Linked DNA regions of Homo sapiens. The protein of the gene in region 2 purifies or fractionates together with the protein of the main gene of each other region. This does not show direct contact. Each region holds a gene or a part of one and is shown on either strand. Other genes may lie near its edges. The genes, in order: ADNP, NT5C2, XRCC4, GNPDA1, ARID4B and WARS1.

Evidence for each region.
Region 1: the proteins of NT5C2 (region 2) and ADNP fractionate together in Homo sapiens (co-fractionation; one large-scale study listed by BioGRID). This does not show direct contact.
Region 3: the proteins of NT5C2 (region 2) and XRCC4 fractionate together in Homo sapiens (co-fractionation; one large-scale study listed by BioGRID). This does not show direct contact.
Region 4: the proteins of NT5C2 (region 2) and GNPDA1 fractionate together in Homo sapiens (co-fractionation; one large-scale study listed by BioGRID). This does not show direct contact.
Region 5: the proteins of NT5C2 (region 2) and ARID4B fractionate together in Homo sapiens (co-fractionation; one large-scale study listed by BioGRID). This does not show direct contact.
Region 6: the proteins of NT5C2 (region 2) and WARS1 fractionate together in Homo sapiens (co-fractionation; one large-scale study listed by BioGRID). This does not show direct contact.

Annotation. Positions count from the first base shown.
Region 1 is NC_000020.11:50,896,938-50,900,437, reverse strand, and holds part of ADNP (activity-dependent neuroprotector homeobox protein), read left to right. Parts: intron 1-3,500.
Region 2 is NC_000010.11:103,099,273-103,102,772, reverse strand, and holds part of NT5C2 (cytosolic purine 5'-nucleotidase), read left to right. Parts: intron 1-1,446; coding exon 1,447-1,538; intron 1,539-1,670; coding exon 1,671-1,728; intron 1,729-1,808; exon of another isoform or gene 1,809-2,021; intron 2,022-2,091; exon of another isoform or gene 2,092-2,110; intron 2,111-2,753; coding exon 2,754-2,847; intron 2,848-3,500. UniProt on the Homo sapiens protein: Broad specificity cytosolic 5'-nucleotidase that catalyzes the dephosphorylation of 6-hydroxypurine nucleoside 5'-monophosphates.
Region 3 is NC_000005.10:83,084,047-83,087,546, forward strand, and holds part of XRCC4 (DNA repair protein XRCC4), read left to right. Parts: intron 1-3,500.
Region 4 is NC_000005.10:142,006,528-142,010,027, reverse strand, and holds part of GNPDA1 (glucosamine-6-phosphate deaminase 1), read left to right. Parts: intron 1-2,127; coding exon 2,128-2,229; intron 2,230-3,500. UniProt on the Homo sapiens protein: Catalyzes the reversible conversion of alpha-D-glucosamine 6-phosphate (GlcN-6P) into beta-D-fructose 6-phosphate (Fru-6P) and ammonium ion, a regulatory reaction step in de novo uridine diphosphate-N-acetyl-alpha-D-glucosamine (UDP-GlcNAc) biosynthesis via hexosamine pathway.
Region 5 is NC_000001.11:235,321,680-235,325,179, reverse strand, and holds part of ARID4B (AT-rich interactive domain-containing protein 4B), read left to right. Parts: intron 1-3,500. UniProt on the Homo sapiens protein: Acts as a transcriptional repressor. May function in the assembly and/or enzymatic activity of the Sin3A corepressor complex or in mediating interactions between the complex and other regulatory complexes.
Region 6 is NC_000014.9:100,368,848-100,372,347, reverse strand, and holds part of WARS1 (tryptophan--tRNA ligase, cytoplasmic), read left to right. Parts: intron 1-3,089; 5' UTR 3,090-3,162; coding exon 3,163-3,261; intron 3,262-3,500. UniProt on the Homo sapiens protein: Catalyzes the attachment of tryptophan to tRNA(Trp) in a two-step reaction: tryptophan is first activated by ATP to form Trp-AMP and then transferred to the acceptor end of the tRNA(Trp).

The DNA.
Region 1 (3,500 bases), on a different chromosome or scaffold from region 2:
CTTAATGATGGGATGCATTCTGAGAAATGCCCTGTTAGGTGATGTCATTGTTGTACAAACATCATAAAGGGTACTTACACAGACCTAGGTGGTATAGCCTCCTATTACCCCTACGCTATATGGTATGGCCTGTTGCTCCTAGGCTACAAACTTGTATGGCATGTTACTATAAGAGAATACTATATACTGAATACTATAAGAGTGATTAACACAATGGTAAGTATTTGTGTTTCTAAACATAGTGAAGCATAGAAAAGGTACAGTAAAAATGCAATATAAAAGAAAAATTGGTACACCTATATTGGGCACTTGCGGGACTGGAAGTTGCTCTGAGTGGTGACTGAATATGAAGGGACATTATTGTACATCACTGTAGACTTTATAAACACACTTAGGCTACATAAAAAGTAAAACTTTAAAATTCTTAACTTCTGAATCTTTTGTAATAACACTTAGCTTAAAACACAAACACGGCAACCTGCCCGGGTCCCCTTCCACACTGCGGAAGCTTTGTCCTTTCACTCTTCATAATGAATCTTGCTACCGCTCCAAAAAAAAAAAAAAAAAAAATTGTACAGCTGTATAAAAATATTTTGTCTTCATATGCTTACAGGCTTTTTCCTAGTCTTAAACTTTTTTTTTTTTTTTAACTTTTTAAACTGTTGTTAAAAACTAAGACACAGACATAATTAGCCTAGGCCTACACAGGGTCAAGATCAATGGTATTACCATTGCCACCTTCACAGCTTGTCTCACTGGAAGGTTTTCAGGAGCAGTAACACGCATGGAGCCATCATTTCCTGTGATGGCAGTGTCGTCTTCTAGATACCTCCTGAAGGATCTGGCTGAGGCTGTTTTAGAGTTAACTTTTTTTTAAAAAATATAGAAGTAAGTGGTACACTCAAATAATGATTAAAAACTCATTACCGGCCGGGCGCTGGGCTCATGCCTATAATCCCAGCACTTTGGGAGGCCGAGGCAGGTGGATCGCCTGAGGTCAGGAGTTCGAGACCAGCCTGGCCAACATGGTGAAACCCCCTCTCTACTAAAAATACGAAAATTCGCCAGGTGTGGTGGCAGATGCCTGTAATCCCAGCTACTGGAGGTTGGAAGTGGGAGCGGGGAAGGCAGGAGAATCGCTTGAACCTGGGAGGTGGAGGTTGCAGTGAGCTGAGATCGTGCCATCGCACTCCAGCCTGGGGGACAAAAGCAAGACTTCATCTCAAAAAAAAAAAAAAAACCTCATTACCAAAATCCTTGCATACTTAAGTCCCACAGTTGGCCCTGGAGAACCTGCATATACCAAAAGCTAGCCCTCTGTATAAGAGGGTTTGAGCATCCCAAGAATACTGTATCTTTGATCTACATTTGTTTGGAAAAAATCCACATATAAGCAGTTCAAACCTATGTTGTTGAAGAGTCAACTGTATAGTAAATACTAGGTGACAGAAATTTTTCAGCCCCGTTATAATCTTGGGGGAACATAGTCCCATATGCAGTCTGTACTAGACAGAAAACATCAGCACATGACTTCCTGATAATGACAGTTAAAAACCGTATTGCCAGTTTATGTATTTACTATATATACTTTTTATTTTAGAGTGTACTCCTACTTTTTAAAACAGCTTTTCATGGTAACTGGTAGCAGCCTCATACAGCTTGTGTTCACTGTGTCTCTTGATTGCATCATTCTTGTGCATGGTTTAATCTCATGGTATTTTGTTCATCATGGCCCCTAAGCATACAAAATCCATAATGTTGCCAGTAAGGGGCCATGTTGAGTGATTGACCTGGAAACAGAAGTGATTAAGGACTACGAAGGTGGAGAATCAGTGATGGTTATTTCTTGCCAGTCAGGCTTGTCCCATTTTACCATAGCTATGATCTTGAAGAACAAGAACAAAGTGACAGAAGCTGTTAAAGCATCTGCTTCATTGAAGGCAATGAGACTAACAAAAATTCAAGAAGGGCCTTTATCAGACACACACAAGCTTCTGATGACCTGGATTGAAGAGCAGACACAGGTGCACACGGTGCTGTGTACCTCTCAGCACCATGATGATCCCAAAGCAAAAAGTGTGTTTGAGGTGTTGAAAGAAAAGGCTGGACCTGGCTGTGATGTTGAATTGACTGCTAGTTCTGGGTGGTGTAAACAATTCAAGAATCGTTATTCATTACATAATGGGAAAGTGGTGAGTTTGTGAGTGCTGATGTAAAGGCAGCGGAAGAATTTTGGGAAACTCTAGATAAGCTGAGTCTGGAGGAAAATCACTTGCCAGAACAAATTTTCAATATGGATGAAACCTTTCTATTCTGGAAACAGATGCCTGAAAGGACTTTGATCCATGAGGTAGACCAAAGCAATGCCAGGCTTCAAGTCTTTTAAGGACTGGATGACAGTCTTGCTTGGGGGCAATGTTGCAGGCCACAAATTGAAACCCTTTGTGATTTGGCATGTTGAGAACCCTAGGGGCTTCAAGCATATCAATACACACACACTTGGCCAGTGCACTGCAGGAGATATAAGAAGTCGTGGGTGACCCTGCTCCTCTTTCAAGATGCCCTCCTGAATAGATATGCCTGCGAAGTGGAGAAGTAGTATTGAGAGAATAACATACCCTTCAAGCTTTTGCTTATTGTCGCTGATAAGCAAATGCCTCCTTTAAGTGGTGTTTTTCATCCCAGTATCAAACACCACCTCTTTGATCCAACTGATGGAGTTACAGCAGCTTTTAAGGCGTACTATCTGAGAAAGGCCTTTGTCCTGTCGTCGCAGCTTAGGGAGACACTGAGAAGATTCTGATACAATTCTGGAAGGATTGCAATATCTGTGACTGCATTAAGAATCTTGCTTGGGCTTGGGTTGATGTCATCAAGGAGTGTATGAATGGCATCTGGAAGAATACACTCAAGAGGTTTGTCCATGACTTAAAAGGATTTGCATAAATCACAAAGTCTGTGATTGAGATGGCAAACAACTTTAACCGGGGTGTGGATGAGGACAACAGGAGCTCCTAGAGGTGATTCCTGAGGAATTGACTGGTGAGGAGCTGTGGGAACTAGAACAAGTTCCCGCATAGGTGAAGAGGAAAGAGAAAAGGAAACTGCAGGAAAAGCAAAAGAAGAACCCTCAAGAAAATTCAGTGAAGGATTTAGCAGTGCAGACCTCAGCAAGCTCCTTAAGTCTGAAAACACGTGGCCGGGCTTGGTGGCTCACGCCTGTAATCCCAGCATTTTGGGAGGCCGAGGCTGGTGGATCATCTGAGGTCAGGAGTTCAAGACCAGCCTGGCCGACATGGTGAAACCCCGTCTCTACTAAAAATACAAAAAAATTAGCCGGGCGTGGTGGTGGGGCGCCTGTAATCCCAGCCACGAGGCTGAGGCAGGAGAATCGCTTGAACCCGGGAAGTGCAGGTTGCAGTGAGCCGAGATTGTGCCATTGCACTCCAGCTTGGGTGACAAGAGCAAAAAAACTGCATCTCAAACAACAACAAAAAAGT
Region 2 (3,500 bases):
CTCACATCACTTCTTATCTAGTTTTCATATTTCTGTTCATCGTACCAACCACCTCTCAGAGACACCTTAGCATGGACATCATCATCTTTGACTCTTTAATGTTCCCCCAGCCAAATCTGCTCAGTTTGCCGGGTCTTATTTTACCTTGGTAATCTCTCTTGAATATATGAGTGAGCTGAGATCACGCCACTGCACTCCAGCCTGGCCGACAGAGTGAGACTCTGTCTCAAAAAAAAAAAAAGAAAAAAGAAAAAATTCTGAGAGTCAACTGGGTGATTCTGGGTTGCACAGCTGATCTCTCTATGCTCTTTCACATGTCTGTGGTTAGCTGGTGGGTGACCTGGCATCTGATCTACAATGGCCTCATGCACATGTCTGGCATTCACAGGCTGTTGGCCGAGTGCTTCATTTCTACATGTAGCCTTCTATCCTCCAGCAGACTATCTCACTGTCATGCACATAGTAGTCCATGGTTCCAAGTGCTGCAAGAGAGATTAAGCCTCAATACACACATGTTTTTCTAGGTCTCTGCTTGGATCCCATTTGCTGCTATACAAGCCTATATTCAAGGATAGAGAAATAGACTGAGTTCTAATGGGAGGAGCCACAAAATTGCATCACAAAGAGACAGGAAGAATTTGTGGCCATTGTTGGAGTGCATCACATTGTCTTTCCCCAGTTTATCCTAAAACAGCCACTAATTTAATTTTGTTTTACAACTCAGCCCCGATGGGATTATCCTCTGCTTTAAAACTGTCAGTAGTACCCTCTTGCCCCTAAATGGTGTAGAAACAGTAGCTTAATCTGCCTCAACCCATCTTTCTAGCTTAATTTTTCTCTGCTCCCCTTTCTCTACCCAAGTTGGACTAGTTTCACAACTGGTCCACCTAGCCTTTAAGGCCCAGCTCATATACCAGCACGTGCATGAATCCTTCCTAGATTTTCCTCTCCTTAGTCCTCACATTTGCTTCTCTCTACCTCTTAAGTTGAAATGGTGTTCCCTTCTTTGGTTTTCTCATAAATGTTTGCACCTTTCTTGTAGTAGTTGTGATTTTTTACCTTATAATTATATGTGTATGTGACCCACCTCGCCCACCACACTGACAACTCTTTTAAGAGCTGGAACCTAAGCTGGACATCACACCTGTAATCCCAGCTACTTGGGAGGCTGAGGTGGGAAGATTGCTTGAGCAATCTTCAGGAGTTTGAGTCCAGCCTGGACTTAAAATAGCAAGACTGTCTTAAAAAAAAAAAAAAATTAAAATTAAAAAAAATAAAGAGCTGGAACCTGAACTCGTTCATCTTCATAGCTATCCATGCGTAATATTCGGAATTCTGTCTTGCACATAGCCATCAAAATATTTGAGTTAATTTTTGAATAATGCTATTTCCCAATTATTATAATGTTATTTTAAAAATCAGTTAATTTTTAAATTTTTCTTTCAGACCAGAAACTAGAGAACAGTATCCAAATAAATTTATCCAGCGAGATGATACTGAAAGATTTTACATTCTGAACACACTATTCAACCTACCAGGTAGATTCATTCTATGCTTATTTATACTGATGCTTTCCCTTCTGTGACCATTAGTCTGTATTCAAGGGAGGTAATGAAATAAGTTTGAATTATTTCATTATAGCTTATGAATATCTGTTCTTCATTTTTCAGAGACCTACCTGTTGGCCTGCCTAGTAGATTTTTTTACTAATTGTCCCAGATATACCAGGTATGTATATACTATAATTATTTTTTTCCAATTGATTTTTAAAATTAATGCACAGGGTTTTAGAGAACTGGCCATTGTAGGTCTTTTCTGCTTTTCTAAAGTGAATTTAGTGCTAGTGAGAGATGCCACATTGCCAACCTGAGAGATGGGACAGCACCAGCAGCTCCATGCAGGCTCTCACCTCCCACACGGCCCCTCTCCTTGCCAGTGTGCTGCAGCCACCACTTCTGATTGGCTTCTCCTGGGAATGAAGACGGCCAGCAGAGGTGCTAATTGTGACAACTGAGTGGGAGGTTTGTGTGATGATTATCTGTCCAAGCAGAATTACACTAAAACCCCCCAACTCATTTCACAGCAGCTACCCAGGAGCCATTCAGGGATGGTAATTTAATTTCATTCCCAGGCCAGGCAAGATTTGATTAAGGAATAAATACTGTGTATCTTATCAGAAGTAAAATTTTGCGTAAGTCTTAAACAAGTTATCCTCTCCCTTTAGGGAGAATTATATAGCCAATACTGAAAGTTTAGCCATCTATATACCAGAGTTGGCTAACTTCTTATCCTCTTTGGGCTTTATCCACTTGAAGACACTAAATTTGGTGGAAAGCTGAGTCACTGAACTAAATAAAAAAATGGACAGTACCTTTGTACTTAGGGACAGTGTCAGGAAAGTCAGGGTGGAAAGAACCTAAATGACCAATTTTAAGTTTTAAATGTTTCTTCAACCTGTTTCTAAAAAGTGATAAATAAAAAAACCTGACATTTTTGGAACTTTGGCCTTTTAGCTTCCATTCAATATATTCTTCTATCACTTTGTATTTGTTCACAATTACTGTATTCCATTGAACACTATAGCCATTTCTGGTGGTCAAAGTGGACTTTCATTAGGGAGTAATTATTTTCCTCATTAGCCACAGCCTTTACCCATGTGATATGGAACCTTTGGGTCCCCTGGGAAATTTTTGATATATATTTTGTTTACCCTGTTTTGGATCCCCTGTCATGTTATTTTTATCTTTCTGTAGTTGTGAAACAGGATTTAAAGATGGGGACCTCTTCATGTCCTACCGGAGTATGTTCCAGGATGTAAGAGATGCTGTTGACTGGGTTCATTACAAGGTACCTAGAAGCTGTTTCTTCACCTGCTTGCTTTCTGGCATGTATTTTATGGCGTGGCATTAACTTTCCAAATGGAGCAGAATATTTCTTTTTTTAAAAAAAGAAAAAACAGATTTGCCCCCGCCTAGTGATAGCCCTCTAGAATACATTTGTTCTTGTCTTTGGTCTCGGTGGTAATGTTGATCTTTCCTCAGTGATGGTGTTTGGCTTCTGGATTTTATTTTAGTTTGCATTTCTCAAACTTAGAAGAGGTTTTAGTGTATTACATTATACTTAACATATCCTTTGTGGATGACAGTGGTCCATTTTTTTTGTCCAGATACCTCCCACCCGACTAATAACATTAATAAATATTAAATTTACATGTATTATAAACTATTGAATAAAATATGAAATGCCTTTTAATTTCAAACTTAAAATAGAAACTGTTTTATATTTTGAAGACAAATTTTAGAGGCAGGGTTGCAGCAAATCATACCTGCTACTTTTTTCTGGCCTTCTCTAGTTTGTCCACTTTTCCATTTTGGTAAATCCTTAAGAAATGCATTTGGGGCTGGGCATGATGGCTCATGCCTGTAATCCCAGCACTTTGTGATGCCAAGGCAGGTGGATTGCTTGAGCTCAGGAGTTCAAGACTAGCCTGGGCAACATGA
Region 3 (3,500 bases), on a different chromosome or scaffold from region 2:
ATCTTTGGGATATCAAATCCTGGTACATAGGAAGTAATCAGTGAATGTTTTAATGCATTAATGGCATGATCAAGGACACTCAGCTATGAAGCATAGTTTTGATTCCAACCTGGGTCTTTTGAGTGTAAAATCAATGGCTTATTTGCTATACCTTGTTTCTTAGGAAAAAGATGGCTGTCTTTAAAATAATTGAAAGGTACTGTATCCTTTTGATACAAGTAGGAGGGAGTTAATGCATTGTATAGCCCTGGACAATTTGCTCCTTGTTATTGCGGAAGCTGCCAGCCCTGATGAAAGTGAGTTGTGCCTTTTTCTAAGGCATTGGCTGAAATCATTGATCAGGGTTCAATTGCAGACAGCAAATTTTTAATGTTGATGAAATTAGGCACTTTTGGGGAGGAAAACATTCTTGAGATTTGTGTTGCCAAAAAGAAGAAATACTTGCCAAAGAAGAAATACATGCCAAAATTCCAAACTGTTCATGAGGCATTTATGTTTTTGCTAGATGCCATTACTACCAGTAACTTCATGTTACATTAAACTTGTGTACCATTGGGAAATCCCAGAGTGTTTAAAGATGTTGCAAAGATTTTCTTTCAGCAGTACCGAAATTTGCTCTTAAGATTGATTTAATTATGATTAGTTTGTTAACAGTATCTCTGACACGTAGCACAAAATTAGGTAAACTAATTTTGCGTTTAAAATACTGTTTGTTTAATCCTAGATAATGAGCTAGACTTCCCAACTACTCTTTATGATTGGCATCCTGAGTTCAAACTGCCTTCTGAATATTATCATTATTGTCGCAGCCTATAAACTAAAGCAGTTTTATCTTCACCTAGCCCTTAAGACTAACAAAAAAGGAAATCGATTAGCTCTATAGATTCTGAAAAGGCTTCCACATTAGTAATGTCGTTGCAAATGATAATTAGGCTTGAGATTAAGTAATCAAAAACAAATATTACCTGGAGGACATTGTATCCTGAATTTGTGTTCATTTCCATAGCTTTGCTAATCCTACAGAAGTGACTAAAATGTTGAAGTAAGCAAAGAGTTCAATCTGGTCTTGTGTGAGAGAATGCTATTAACTTACTTCTAATTTTACCTGAGCAGTGAATGAGAATTTTATTGGATAAAGAAGGAACTTGCTCATTTGAAACAGAAGCACATGGCTGCTAAGAAATGAGATGCAGCCATTGTTGAAACCTGTCAAAGTCTTGACAGTATAAATATTGACATGCTGAGACATGTCAATATTTACCATAGAATTTGGAAGTTGCCAAGTTCCTGTTTAAGAAATGTGACCCTAGCATTGGACACAGTATATCAATAAATACGGAACATGTCCAAATGAACAGCTGCTCAGGGAAAATAAAATTACATCTGTCTAAACGTTGGGGCACTTAAAAAGTTAAAGTTTAAATGTTTATGATTTTTTTTGTAATTTTTAGGTAGATGCTTGTATGATATAGTATACTAATAGAGTTCCATGTATGGGTTTAACATAAAATGACAGTATCATTGCTATTTATAAATTTGTAAATTAGCTGTGCTGTGATACTCATCTATAAATTGAATTTTAAAAACTTGCCAAGTGTTGTGTTTAGGAACTAACCCTTCATTTTCAACATTGTTCTTAAGGAGAAATTGGCTCATGATGACTTAGATATTAATTTGGGGAGACAAAAGTTTATACTCTGATAACTTCTTAAATGGCAACATAGAAAATAGAAGTTTTTGCACTTTAGATGTGATAAGGGAATATGACCTTGTTGTCATTATCTGACAAGCATGTCTCAGTAGAAAATCATATTATAGATCACCACTGTTAATTCCCATCTGAATATCACTGTATTTTAACAAAAAGCTTTTTGATGCAAAGTAGACATTTGAGCTTTTATATCAAGTCATTAGAACCACACAATCTTACATTGTTTTGCGGACTTCTAGAAGAAGTTTAAACTTAGCAATTCTTTGAACGACAGTCCTAAAACAATCTTAAGAACATAAAACATGGGTATCAGGACTTGTTTTCTCATTGCTTCTCCTTTCTAATGGTAGTGATAGGTGGCTTTTAAATAGTAATCTAATCATTTAACCAGTTCATAATATTGTATGAGTTCTTAGAAGAAATGAATGATTTATTAAGTCCATATAGTAGCGTACATTGTAATTAGCTATAGAGTTGACCCTTGAACAATATAGGGGTTAGGGATGCCAACCTCTCACGCAGTTGAAAATCCATGTATAACTTTTGGCTCCTTCAAAACTTAACTACTAATAGTTTATTGTTGACCAGAAGCCTCATCAATAACATAAACAGTTGATTAACATATGTTTTGTGTGTTATATGCATTATGTACTGTATTCTTACAATAAAGTAAGCTAGAAAAAAGTAAATGTTATTAAGAAAATCATAATGAAAGGAAAATATATTTACTATTCATTAAGTGGAAGTCGATCATCATAAAGGTCTTCATTCTTGTCTTCATGTTGAGCTGGCTGGGGCGGAAGAGGAAGAGAAGGATTGATCTTGCTGTCTCTGGGCTGGCAGAGGTGGCAGAGGTGGCAGAGGTAGAGGAGGTGGAAGAGGAGGCAGGAGAGGTGGACACAGTTGGTGTAACTTTTATTGAGAAACTTTAGAGTGTAAGTGGACCCACACAGAACAAACCTTCAGTTGTTCAGCGATCAACTGTGTATGTGCCTTAATTTAATTTCTCAGTTTTTATCTAGTTTTTTTTTTCAAAAACAGTTTTCTAAGACATTGGCTGGTTCTCTCTCTTTCTCATTTTGTCCTGAGTCAAAGAAATCCCTTAGATATTAAATCAGACATACCTGAACTGAATGTTCGTACCTAAATGCCTAACCATGATCTTTATGTTCTTGAATGTTCTAATTTGGTTGAATTTTTTTGGCCATCAGCTAAATAGATATCTCTGTTTTATATAACCTCTAAACAAGGTTTAATTAAAAAATCAGGCATTTCTAGGCCAGGAGTGGTGGCTCACACCTGTAATTCCAGCACTTTGGGAGGCCAAAGCAGGTGGATCACCAGAGGTCAGAATTTCAAGTCCAGCCTGGCCAACCTGGTGAAACCCCATCTCTACCAAAAATACAAAAATTAGCCGGGAGTGGTGGTGCATGCCTGTAATCTCAGCTACTCGGGAGGCTGAGACATGAGAATTGCTTGAACCTGGGAGGCAGAGGTTGCAGTGAGCTGAGATTGCGCCACTGCACTCCAGCCTGGGCAACAGAGTGAGACCCTGTCTCCAAAAAAATAAAAAATAAAAAGACATTTCTAAATAACAACAGCCCTATAAAATTTGTCCTGGTTGGCTGAGCACAGTGGCTCACACTTGTAATCCCAGCACTTTGGGAGGCCGAGGCAGGTAGATCATTTGAGGTCAGGCGTTTGAGACCAGCATGGCCAACATAGTGAAACCCCATCTCTACTAAAAATACAAAAATCAGCCAGGCGTGGTGGTGCATGCCTGTAATCC
Region 4 (3,500 bases), on a different chromosome or scaffold from region 2:
TCCTAACTGTGGAGAGACCCAACCTCTGTATGGGTCAGAGTCTGGCCTTCTGAAACCATTCCCTCGTTCCCATCATTGCAGAGTCAGATCCAAGCTCTTCAGAGTGGCATTCAAGGCCCTCCAAAACCTGGCCTCTCCCTGCCTGTCCTGCTTGAACCAACAGGACAGCGTTTCCACACGGGTTCCTTGGAACATTGCTTCTGTTAGATGTAGCACCTGTCAGGGTTCTGAGTGGAAACCACAGAAACCAACTCCAGCTAAATTAAGCAGAAAAGGAGTTTATTGGCTAGATACTGGGAAGTTCAGAGAATTCATGGGAAGGCTAGAAGTTTGGAAAATGGCAGGAGAGAGGAAGCTATGTGGCTCAGGCATAGCTAAGGCCTTGTCACACGGACCAACTAATTATTTTGGGTGGGCTGCGGGGAGCTGCCATTCACTCAGCAGGTATTTATTGAGTACCCTCTGTATGCAAAGCTGTTCTAGCCTCTAAGGATACAGCAATGAACAAAAAGGATATGAACTTCTGCCTTCTGAGGCTTAAATTATAATGGGAGAGACATAATAATTAGCAAAATATAGAGTATGTTAGATGGTGATAAGAGGAAAGGAGAAACATGAAGCAGGAAAGGATAGGGAGTGTGTCGGCAGGGGTGGGGCTGTGCAGTGTTGGATATGGTGGCAGGGAGGGTCTCATAGCCAGGGGCCAGGTTCTGTGGAGCCTTAGAATAACTGGTGTTGCTGAGGGTGAAATGAGAAGCTATTGGTGGGTTTTGAAAAGAGGGGTGACATGACGTAATCTCGATGGGTTTTTTTTCTTTCATTTTTTTAGTTTGCAAAATTTCAAATATTCAAAAAAGAGGAAAAAAACAGGTCAATACCATTCACCTAAATTCACCAATTGTTACCATTTTGCCACATTTGCTTTTACCTTTCTCTGGCTCTTGTTCTTTATCTACACACACACACACTTTTTTTTTCTGAACCACATGAAAATAAGTTCCAGACATCCTGACACTTATCTCTAAATCCTTCAGCACATATCTCCTGAGAATAAGGACATTCTCCTACACAACCATGATACCATCATACCTAAGAAAATGAAAAATCATGCCATCATCTAATATGCAAACTGTGTTCACAATTTTTTCTCAATTGTCCACATTTATCTTTTATAGGTTGGTTTTTAAAAAATTAATTCAGTGTCCAGTCAGGGTTCATGCATCTTTAGTCTTTTAATATACAGTGTCCTCCTACCTTTTATTGTGTGTGTGTTTTTATGACATTGACTTTTTTTTTTTTTCAAGATAGAGTCTGGCTCTATTGGCCAGGCTGGAGTGCAGTGGTGCAATCTCGGCCCACTGCAACCTCTGCCTCCCAGGTTCAAGTGATTCTTGTGCCTCAGCCTCCCGAGTAGCTGGGATTACAGGCACATGCCACCATGCCCAGCTACTTTGTGTATTTTTAGTAGAGACAGGGTTTCACCATGTTTTCCAGGCTGGTCTTGAACTCCTGACCTCAAGTGATCTGCCCGCCTTGGCCTCCCAAAGTGTTGGGGTTACAGGCGTGAGCCACCATGCCTAGCCATGACATTGACTTTTTAATGAGACTCAACTAGGGCTTCGCTGCTCCTCAGGGAAGTCTTCCTTGAACCCTGAAGCACTGGGTGAGCCTGTGCTTTACCCTATCACAACTGACGTTCCTGCTTTGTGTTCTACTCCTAGTGAGTTATCTTAGAGTAGCTACTGTCCCTTGCTCCCCTGTGTCCTTATCACATGGCCCTGTGCCTTGCACATATTACTTGTTCAGGGAGTATCATGTCAATAATGAAGTCTGATGTTCACTCAGGTACTAATCAGAGTGATTTCAGTCATCAGTGTGCTGGATACTGGGAGATTCAGCAGTGATCAAGGCAGACACAGTCCTGCCCTCCTGGAGCTTACAGTCTAGTGGCAAAATAGGCATTAAACAAGCAATTAATGGATGGATGGCAGTTAGGATTGGAGTACTGGGTAGGACTTCAGATCTGACAGGTTCTCCCTGTGAGCAGCCCTGACTTATTCCTGTGAACCCTCTGGGCTTCCAGACTTGGGGTGCAAGGGGTGTTCATGGGTGTGGCCACTCTTGCAGGGAGTACCCCACTTGGCTGCTACAAGAAGCTGATTGAATACTATAAGAATGGGGACCTGTCCTTTAAATATGTGAAGACCTTCAACATGGATGAGTACGTGGGTGAGTCTTTCTCTTTCAAGGTTCTTTCCTGATTCTAGGAGAGTGATGCTCCTCCTCTCATTGGCCCAGTCCTGGAGAGGAATCGGGGAGCCAGTGACATTTGATGATAGGCTCAATTATCAATACTTACCTCTTGGTTTACTCAGCTATAAAATGGGGCTAATAAAGCTGACCTCACAGGTTGTAAGCATTAAATTCATTTAATCCTTTTATGATAAAAGATGTGGAAGTTTCTTATACATAACAAATACTTAATAAATATTAGAGTATCTCCTTCTCCTCTGCCTGCTCCTCAACTCCATTCCATTTCTTTCTGGAACAAATGATTGCAAGTGGGATCCTGGCTCGGGTGTTTCCCCTAGGATCTGTGTCTGTGCTTTCTCTTCTGTGTGTGGCCTCCAGCTCCCCTTTCTGCCAGGTACACTTGAAGGGGACCTGAGATTGGTATCCTTCCTGCTGCTGAAAGACTATACCTTGGTCTTCTATCACCTCTCCCTCACCCAGTCCTTTTGTAATAGCTTCATTTTAAACATCCTTTTTTTAAAAAAAAAATTGTGGTAAAATACATGTAACATGACATTTACCATCTTAACCACCTTTCTGTGTATAGTTCAGTAGTGTTAAGTGCATTCACATTGTTGTGCAACCAATTTCCAGAACTCTTTTCATCTTGTAAGACTCAGGCTCTATACCCGTGAAACAACAACTTCTCATTTCCCACTTCACCAGCCACGGAAACCACCATTTTACTGTCTGTTTCTATGAATTTGACTACTCTAGAATCAAACTAGAGTATATAACTGGAATCATAAAGTATTTGTCTTTTTGACTGGCTTCTTACACCTAGCATAAAGTCCACAAGGTTCATCCATTGTTGTAGTGTGTGTCAAAATTTCCTTCCTTTTTAAGGCTGATTTTACATATTCTTAATGCTTAACATTAAACATTATTTTTTTTTCCTGGCCAAAAAAAAAAAAGTTGATCTGGGGAAGCCCTAAGATAGTTCTCTCTAACCACCTGGTGTTCAAGCTGGGATTTATTCAGGCTGAGTGGGGTAGAACTGGGAGTGGATGGTGGGTTGAGAGGCACAGGGTGAGGGGTGTGCTTGCTTGCTTTCTAAGATGAGTTCAGCCCTACCCCAGGTGGCCAGAGTGTCCCCAGCCTCTAACCTATGGTCATTGCCTTATGAAAAGCAGATCAGATCAGAATGTGGGGATTTCCCAGGCCCTTGGTGTGCAGTTACTCTGGCCAAGCCCTGTGGCCACAGATGG
Region 5 (3,500 bases), on a different chromosome or scaffold from region 2:
TAAATTTCTAACTTCATACAAGTACTTCCTGTTATTATAAGTATAGCAAATCTCAGAGAATTTGCTAGTAATTATTAGTACTAAAAACTTAGCTTATTTCTTACAACTTTATTTCTTATGTGATAAAAGATGAGAAGCTTCTTGTAATTTGTATTTTGCTTTAGCAAAAATTGCAATTCAGAATCTATTTAATGTTGAGTGTATTAGGCCTAAATTTTGTTTCTTTTTCTGTGTGTTCCCAATTTCTTTCGTTCTTTTTTATTTTTCTTTTTGATATAGAGTCTCACTATTTCACCCTGGCTGGCACGATCTGTAACTGCTGCCTCCTGGGCTCAAATAATCCTCCCACCTCAGCCTCCTGAGTAGCTGGGACTACAGGCACACCTGGCTAATTTTTGTAGTTTTTGTAGAGATGAGGTTTTGCCGTGTTGCCCAGGCTGGTGTCGAACTTCTGGGCTCAGGTGACTCTCCCGCCTTAGCCTCCCAAAGTGCTGGGATTACAGGCGAGAGTCACCGTGCCTGGTGTAATTTCTGTATTACGATGATCATTGAGCTACAGAAGGTTTTATGCCATTTATTGGATCTTACCAAACATATTTGTACTTGGGAGCAAGCTTTTAAGTTTGAATTGTCTGTTGTATTAACGACAACAAATCTTTAAATTTTATTAAGTGACAGTTTATTGAGGTGATTGAAAGTTAGATTATGTAGTAATACTTTTTAGGTGTTGTTTTAAAGTTGAAGTGTTGTATGTTTTAGCAGTTTTCCCATGTACTACCTTTAAGAATTTATGTAAACAAATACATTCCCATTACTGTCTAATATATGCTATGTTACTTTTTTCACAGTATGTTTTTGAGGAATATGATTCGTAATACATAAGGAATTTGTGCTGTAACATAGATCGTGATGTTGGTGTTATGTTGAATTTATTTTTCATGCTCTTGATAGACTTTTAAAAATCAGTGGTGCCGGCTGGGCATGGTGGCTCACGCCTGTAATCACAGCACTTTGGGAGGCCGAGGTAGGAGGATCACCTGAGGTCAAGGGAGTTTGAGACCAGCCTGGCCAGCGTAGTAAAACCCTGTCTCTTCTAAAAATACAAAATTAGCTGGGCATGGTGGCACACACCTGTAATCCCAGCTATTCGGAAGGCTGAGGCAGGAGAACTGCTTGAACCCAGGAGGCGGAGGTTGCAGTGAGCTGAGGTTGCGCCACTGAACTCCAGCCTCGGCGAAAAAAGTGAAACTCTCTCTCTCAAAAAAAAAAAAACTAAATAAAATAAAATAAAAATCAGCAGTACCACATTATAAGGAGGTGGTAGATTATTAAAGTTTGTAAATAATTCCAAGACTTATTTTTATTATGTCAGGTTGATTTTTACTTTTTTTTTTTAAGACGGACTTTTGCTCTTGTTGCCCAGGCCGGAGTGCAGTGGTGCGATCTCGGCTCACTGCAACCTCTGCCTCCCAGGTTCAAGCAGTTCTCCTGCCTCAGCCTCCTGAGTAACTGGAATTATAGGCATGCACCATCATGCCGGGCTAATTTTGTGCTTTTAGTAGAGACAAGGTTTCTCCATATTGGTCAGGCTGGTCTCGAACTCCTGACCTCAGGTGATCTGCCCGCCTCGGCCTCCCAAAGTGCTGGGATTACAGGCGTGAGCCACTGCGCCCGGCCGATTTTTACTTTTTTTAAACTCAAACTTTTTTTTCCTGTATCTATATTGTACATGTTATTAACGTCTTTTATTACGTAGCAGTAAATTTTCAATTAAAATGGGCTGGTTGGGCTGGATATACCAGAATCTTTAGAGGAGGAATGATTTAGATGATTATACTTTGGCGGGCATGGTGGCTCATGCTTGTAATCCCAGTACTTTGGGAGGCTGAGGTGGGTGGATTACTTGAGGTTGGGAGTTCAAGACCAGCCTGGCCAAAGTGATGAAAACCCCGTCTCTACTAAAAGTATAAAAAAATTAGCTGGGCATGGTGGCGCATGCCTGTATTCCCAGCTACTCAGGAGACTGAGGTAGGATCGCTTGAACCTAGGAGGTGGAGGTTGCAGTGAGTCGAGATGGCACCACTGCACTCCAGCTTGGGTGACAGGGAGACCCCATTTCAGGAAAAAAAAAAAAAAAAAGGTGGTTATATTTAGAATCCACGTAGATTGAATTTTCCAGATGTACTTTTCTTTCTTCAACAATGATTGGCTTAGGCCACATGAAAAAATAATGGATTGATTACAAATTCCCTTTTTTAATGCCCTGTGTGTGTGTACATGTTCTCTCTCTCTCTCCCCCTACCTCTACCTTTGTTTGTCTCCCTATCCACTCTGTCAGTTCGTTCCCCCCTCTCTGTTCTTTTCCTTCCCCCTCTTCCTTCTGTCTCACCCCTTTCATAAGTCATTCATTTAACAACAACCCGTTTCATATATCAGGTAATATAGAATGAAGGTGGGTGAGGCATCTGACCTGCTTTCAGGGAGCCCACAGTGTAGCAGAAGATGCAGATAAATAAAGCAAAACTCCTAGCATATCTATTTATGAGTATTCCAACATAAAATAATTGTAGGAAATGCTATGAGAGGACAGAAGAGGACAGCTAAATCAGAGAGCTATGGAAAGTTTTCTGGTGGAGTTGACATCTAAGCTGAGTGCGAAGGCTTTTGCTAGGCAAAGAAGGGAAGAAAAGTTTTTCAGATAGAGGATAACGTACTGGAAAATGAACGAAACAAGGTGAAGTATCTGGAAACTGTAAGTAATTTGGTGTGACTGAATTAACTTAAAGCATGATATGTTTGGGTAGGAATAAAAGGGCAGTGGTGGGAGATGAAGCTGAGTGAGGGAGTCGAAAATTTTCTTGGCCAGGCATGGTGTCTCACACCTGTAATCCCAGCACTTTGGGAGGTTGAGGCAGGTGGATCACCTGAGTTCTATACCAGCCTGGCCAACATGGTGAAACCCTGTTTCTACTAAAAATACAAAATTAGCAGGGCATGGTGGTGTGAGCCTGTAATGCCAGCTATTAGGGAGGCTGAGGCAGAAGAATAGCTTGAACACGGGAGGTGGAGGTTACAGTGAGCCGAGATCATGCCATTGCACTCCAGCCTGGGTGACAAGAGCAATACTCTGTCTCAAAAAAAAAAAAATTTTTTCTTGAAAACTACATGGAACCATTGAAAGTTGTTGAGAATTGCTTGAACCCAGGAGCTGGAGGTTGCGGTGAGCTGAGATCAGGCCACTGCAAAAACAAGGGGAGAGCTGAATGTAAGGATGGAAATTCCAGGTAAGAAGTCCAAGTGGAAAATGAATAAGGGCCTGAACTAATGCATTGGAAGTGGAGCAGAGAGGATAGATCTGAGCCTTTTTGAAGTAGAATTCAGGGCCGGGCACAGTGGCTCACACCTGTAATCCCAGCACTTTGGGAGGCTGAGGTGGGTGGATCATGAGGTCAGGAGATTGAGACCATCCTGGCTAACACAGTGAAACCCCGTCTCTACTA
Region 6 (3,500 bases), on a different chromosome or scaffold from region 2:
TTTTTCAATTTTTGTTTTTTTATTTTATAAAAATTTTTTGGAGAGACAGGGTCTCACTATCCATGTTACCTTTCACTCGTGTCACTCGTGTCCGTGTGAAGAGACCACCAAACAGGGTTTGTGTGAGCAACAAGGTTGTTTATTTCACCTGGCTGCAGGCGGGCTGAGTCCAAAAAGAGAGTCATGGAAGGGAGATAGGAGTGGGGCCGTTTTATAGGATTTGGGTAGGTAAAGGAAAGTTATAGTCAAAGGGGATTGTTCTCTGGCGGGCAGGTGGCAGGGGTCACAAGGTGATCAGCAGGGGAGCTTTTGAGCCAGGATGAGCAAGGAGAAGGAATTTCACAAGGGAATGTCATCAGTTAAGGCAGGAACAGGCCATTTTCACTTCTTTTGTGAAGGAATGTCATCAGTTAAGGCCATCTGGATGTGTACGTGCCGGTCACAGGGGATATGGTGGCTTAGCTTGGGCTCAGAGACCTGACATTACCCAAGCTGCTCTTGAACTCCTGAGCTCAAGCAATCGCCTCTGCTTCCCAAAGCACTTGGACTGCAGTTGTGAGCCACCGCTCACAGCACCCGTGATTTACATACTTTTTGGAATTTTTTTTGTTTTGAGACAGAGTCTCTCTCTGTTGCCCAGGTTGGAGTGCAGTGGCATGGTCTCAGCTCACTGCAACCTCTGCCTCCCAGGTTCAAGTGATTCTCATGCCTCAGCCTCCCAAGTAGCTGGGACTACAGGTACATGCCACCATGCCTGGCTAATTTTTGTATTTTTAGTGAAGATGGGGTTTCACCATGTGGGCCAGGCTGGTCTTGATCCACCCTCCTTGGCCTCCCAAAGTGCTGGGATTACAGGCATGAGTCACCACACCTGGCCTACTTTTTTTTTTTTTTTTTTTTGAGACAGAACCTTTCTGTCACCCAGGCTGGGGTGCAGTGGTGTGATCTCAGCTCACTGAAACCTCCACCTCCTGGTTTCAAGCAATTCTCCCACCTCAGCCTCCCAGGTATTTGGAACTACAGGTGTGCGCCACCATGCCCAGCTAATTTTTCTCTATTTTTAGTTGAGACGGGGTTTCACCATGTTGGCCAGGCTGGTCTCAAACTCCTGACCTCAGGTGATCCACCCACCTCAGCCTCCCAAAGTGCTGGGATTATAGGCGTGAGCCACCACACCCAGCCAATTTACGTACTTTTAAAGCAAATATTTAACAAATGGATAGGATAGAGTAAAATAAATGACACCACAAATGTATATGTTTGGTTCATAAAGATAAGTCATTTGTAAGATAATGGTTGAAAGTGTAGGCTCTAGAGTCAAACTACTAGAGTCTATAACGCATCTCTGCCATTTCCTTGTGATGTTAACATGGGCAAGTTTTATTTTATTTTATTTTTATTTTTAGAGACAGGGTCTTACTCTGTCACCCGGGCTGGAGTACAGTGGCGCAAACGTAGCTCACTGAAGCCTCGAACTCCTGGGCTCAAGTGATCTTCCTGCTATAGCCTCCCAAGTAGCTGGGATTACAGGCCCACCACCATGCCCAGCTAATTTTTTTTTTTTTCATTTTTTTGTAGAGTCTCACTATACTGCCCAAAGTGCCAGGGTTGCAGGTATGAGCCACCATGCCCAGCCATGGGCAAGTTTTTTTTAACCCCTCTGTGCCTCATCTATAAAATGGAGATTACAAATCTATTTCATAGGACTGCTGCAAGGCTTAAGTGAATTGATACATATACGGTGCTTAGAACAATAACAGGTACAGAGGTGTTCAAAGTTAGCAGCTCAGGCACTAGCCTTGTCATTTTCCTTCTCCAAGGTTTTACAGCAAGTTAAAATGAAGCTGGAGTTCAGCCAATCTTTGGAATCCTAAGAAACACAAGAAATTTAATAACAGCACTCGTAACGTAGTTACATCTTGCTTTACAGTTTACAAAGTGCTACCATGCCTTTTTTTTCTCATTTTGTTCTCATAAGAGCCTGGGGTAGATGAAGTTCCTGGTGGCGCCATTTTATAGGTTAGGAAACTTGACTCTTAGGAAGTGATTGAGCCAAGAAAGGTTTGATGGCGATACAGTCTCTGTCTGCCATGTCCCCACTTCCTGCAAGGGTTATAATGAATCATGACTAATAGGAGGTGCAGACACACCTTCTGCAAAGGCTTGTAGTTAAATAAGGCAGCACGTGGAATGGACAGACTGGAGACAGTCCTTACCTCATGTGGAACCTAGGACAGGTAAGGCCCTGTCCTCCACCCCAGAGCTCACTTTGTCTGAGAGCAGCTGACCAGCAGTGGAAGACATTTGCTCAGCGATATATTAGTTATGGCTGCAAAAGCCCAAGAATTCATCCCCAAGGCAATTAAGATAAACCACAAATAGAGGATGGGTGCCTTGGCTCACACCTATAATCCCAACACTTTCGGGAGGCTGAAGTGAGAGGATCACCTGAGGTCAGAAGTTCAAGACCAGCCTGGCCAACATGGTGAAACCCTCCCTCTACTAAAAATACAAAAATTCGCTGGGCATGGTGGCAGGCAGCCTCAGGAGGCTGAGACAGAAGAATCGCTTGAACCCCAGAGGTGGAGGTTGCAGTGAGCCAAGATCACACCATTGCACTCCAGCCTGGGTGGCAGAGCGAGACTCCATCTCAAAAAAAAAAAAAATCAAATAGTAATTTGCCAAAAGTTTTTAGCAATGAACTTAAGTTCATTAAAACACATTGGTATTTATACCCTGAGCAAACAGGAGTCCTCCTGTGTTCTGGGCACTGGGTGGGGGCACAGGGGCATCACCAGATGCAAACTTGATCTTGACTAGGAGGGCCCCTCCTAGTCAAGTAGATTCACACCTTAAGTCAGTAAATCCTAGCCACTCCTTTAGTCTTCATCACTGGCATTTGATGGTTTTCCTCTTCTTCATGGCCCCAAATTTCTGGTTCTCTTTTTATTATATTATCTATGTCCTTTACTGTAACTCACCTCACAACCTTTTCGGAAAAAAGGACTCAATACAGGAAAGGAAAAACAGCCGCGATGTTGTGTTAACCTCTGGTTTTTCCTCTCTCTCCTTCCCCGCCCCCACCCCAGTCTTGACTCGTCTGCTGAACAAATCCTCTGACCTCAGGCCGGCTGTGAACGTAGTTCCTGAGAGATAGCAAACATGCCCAACAGTGAGCCCGCATCTCTGCTGGAGCTGTTCAACAGCATCGCCACACAAGGGGAGCTCGTAAGGTCCCTCAAAGCGGGAAATGCGTCAAAGGTACATGATTTTGCTGGGTTCTCCACGAAGGCAGCTGAGCCTCCCAAGTCTGTAGGGTTGTGTTCCTCTAGAATAGATGGTTTCCTCAATGACTGAGGTGTTTTGGTTATAATTTTTTATTTTTTGAGAGGGAATTTCACTCTTGTTTCCCAGGCTGGAGTGCAATGGTGCAATCTAAGCTTGCTGCAACCTCTGCCTCCCGGGTTCAAGTGACTCTCCTGCCTCAGCCTCCCAAGTAG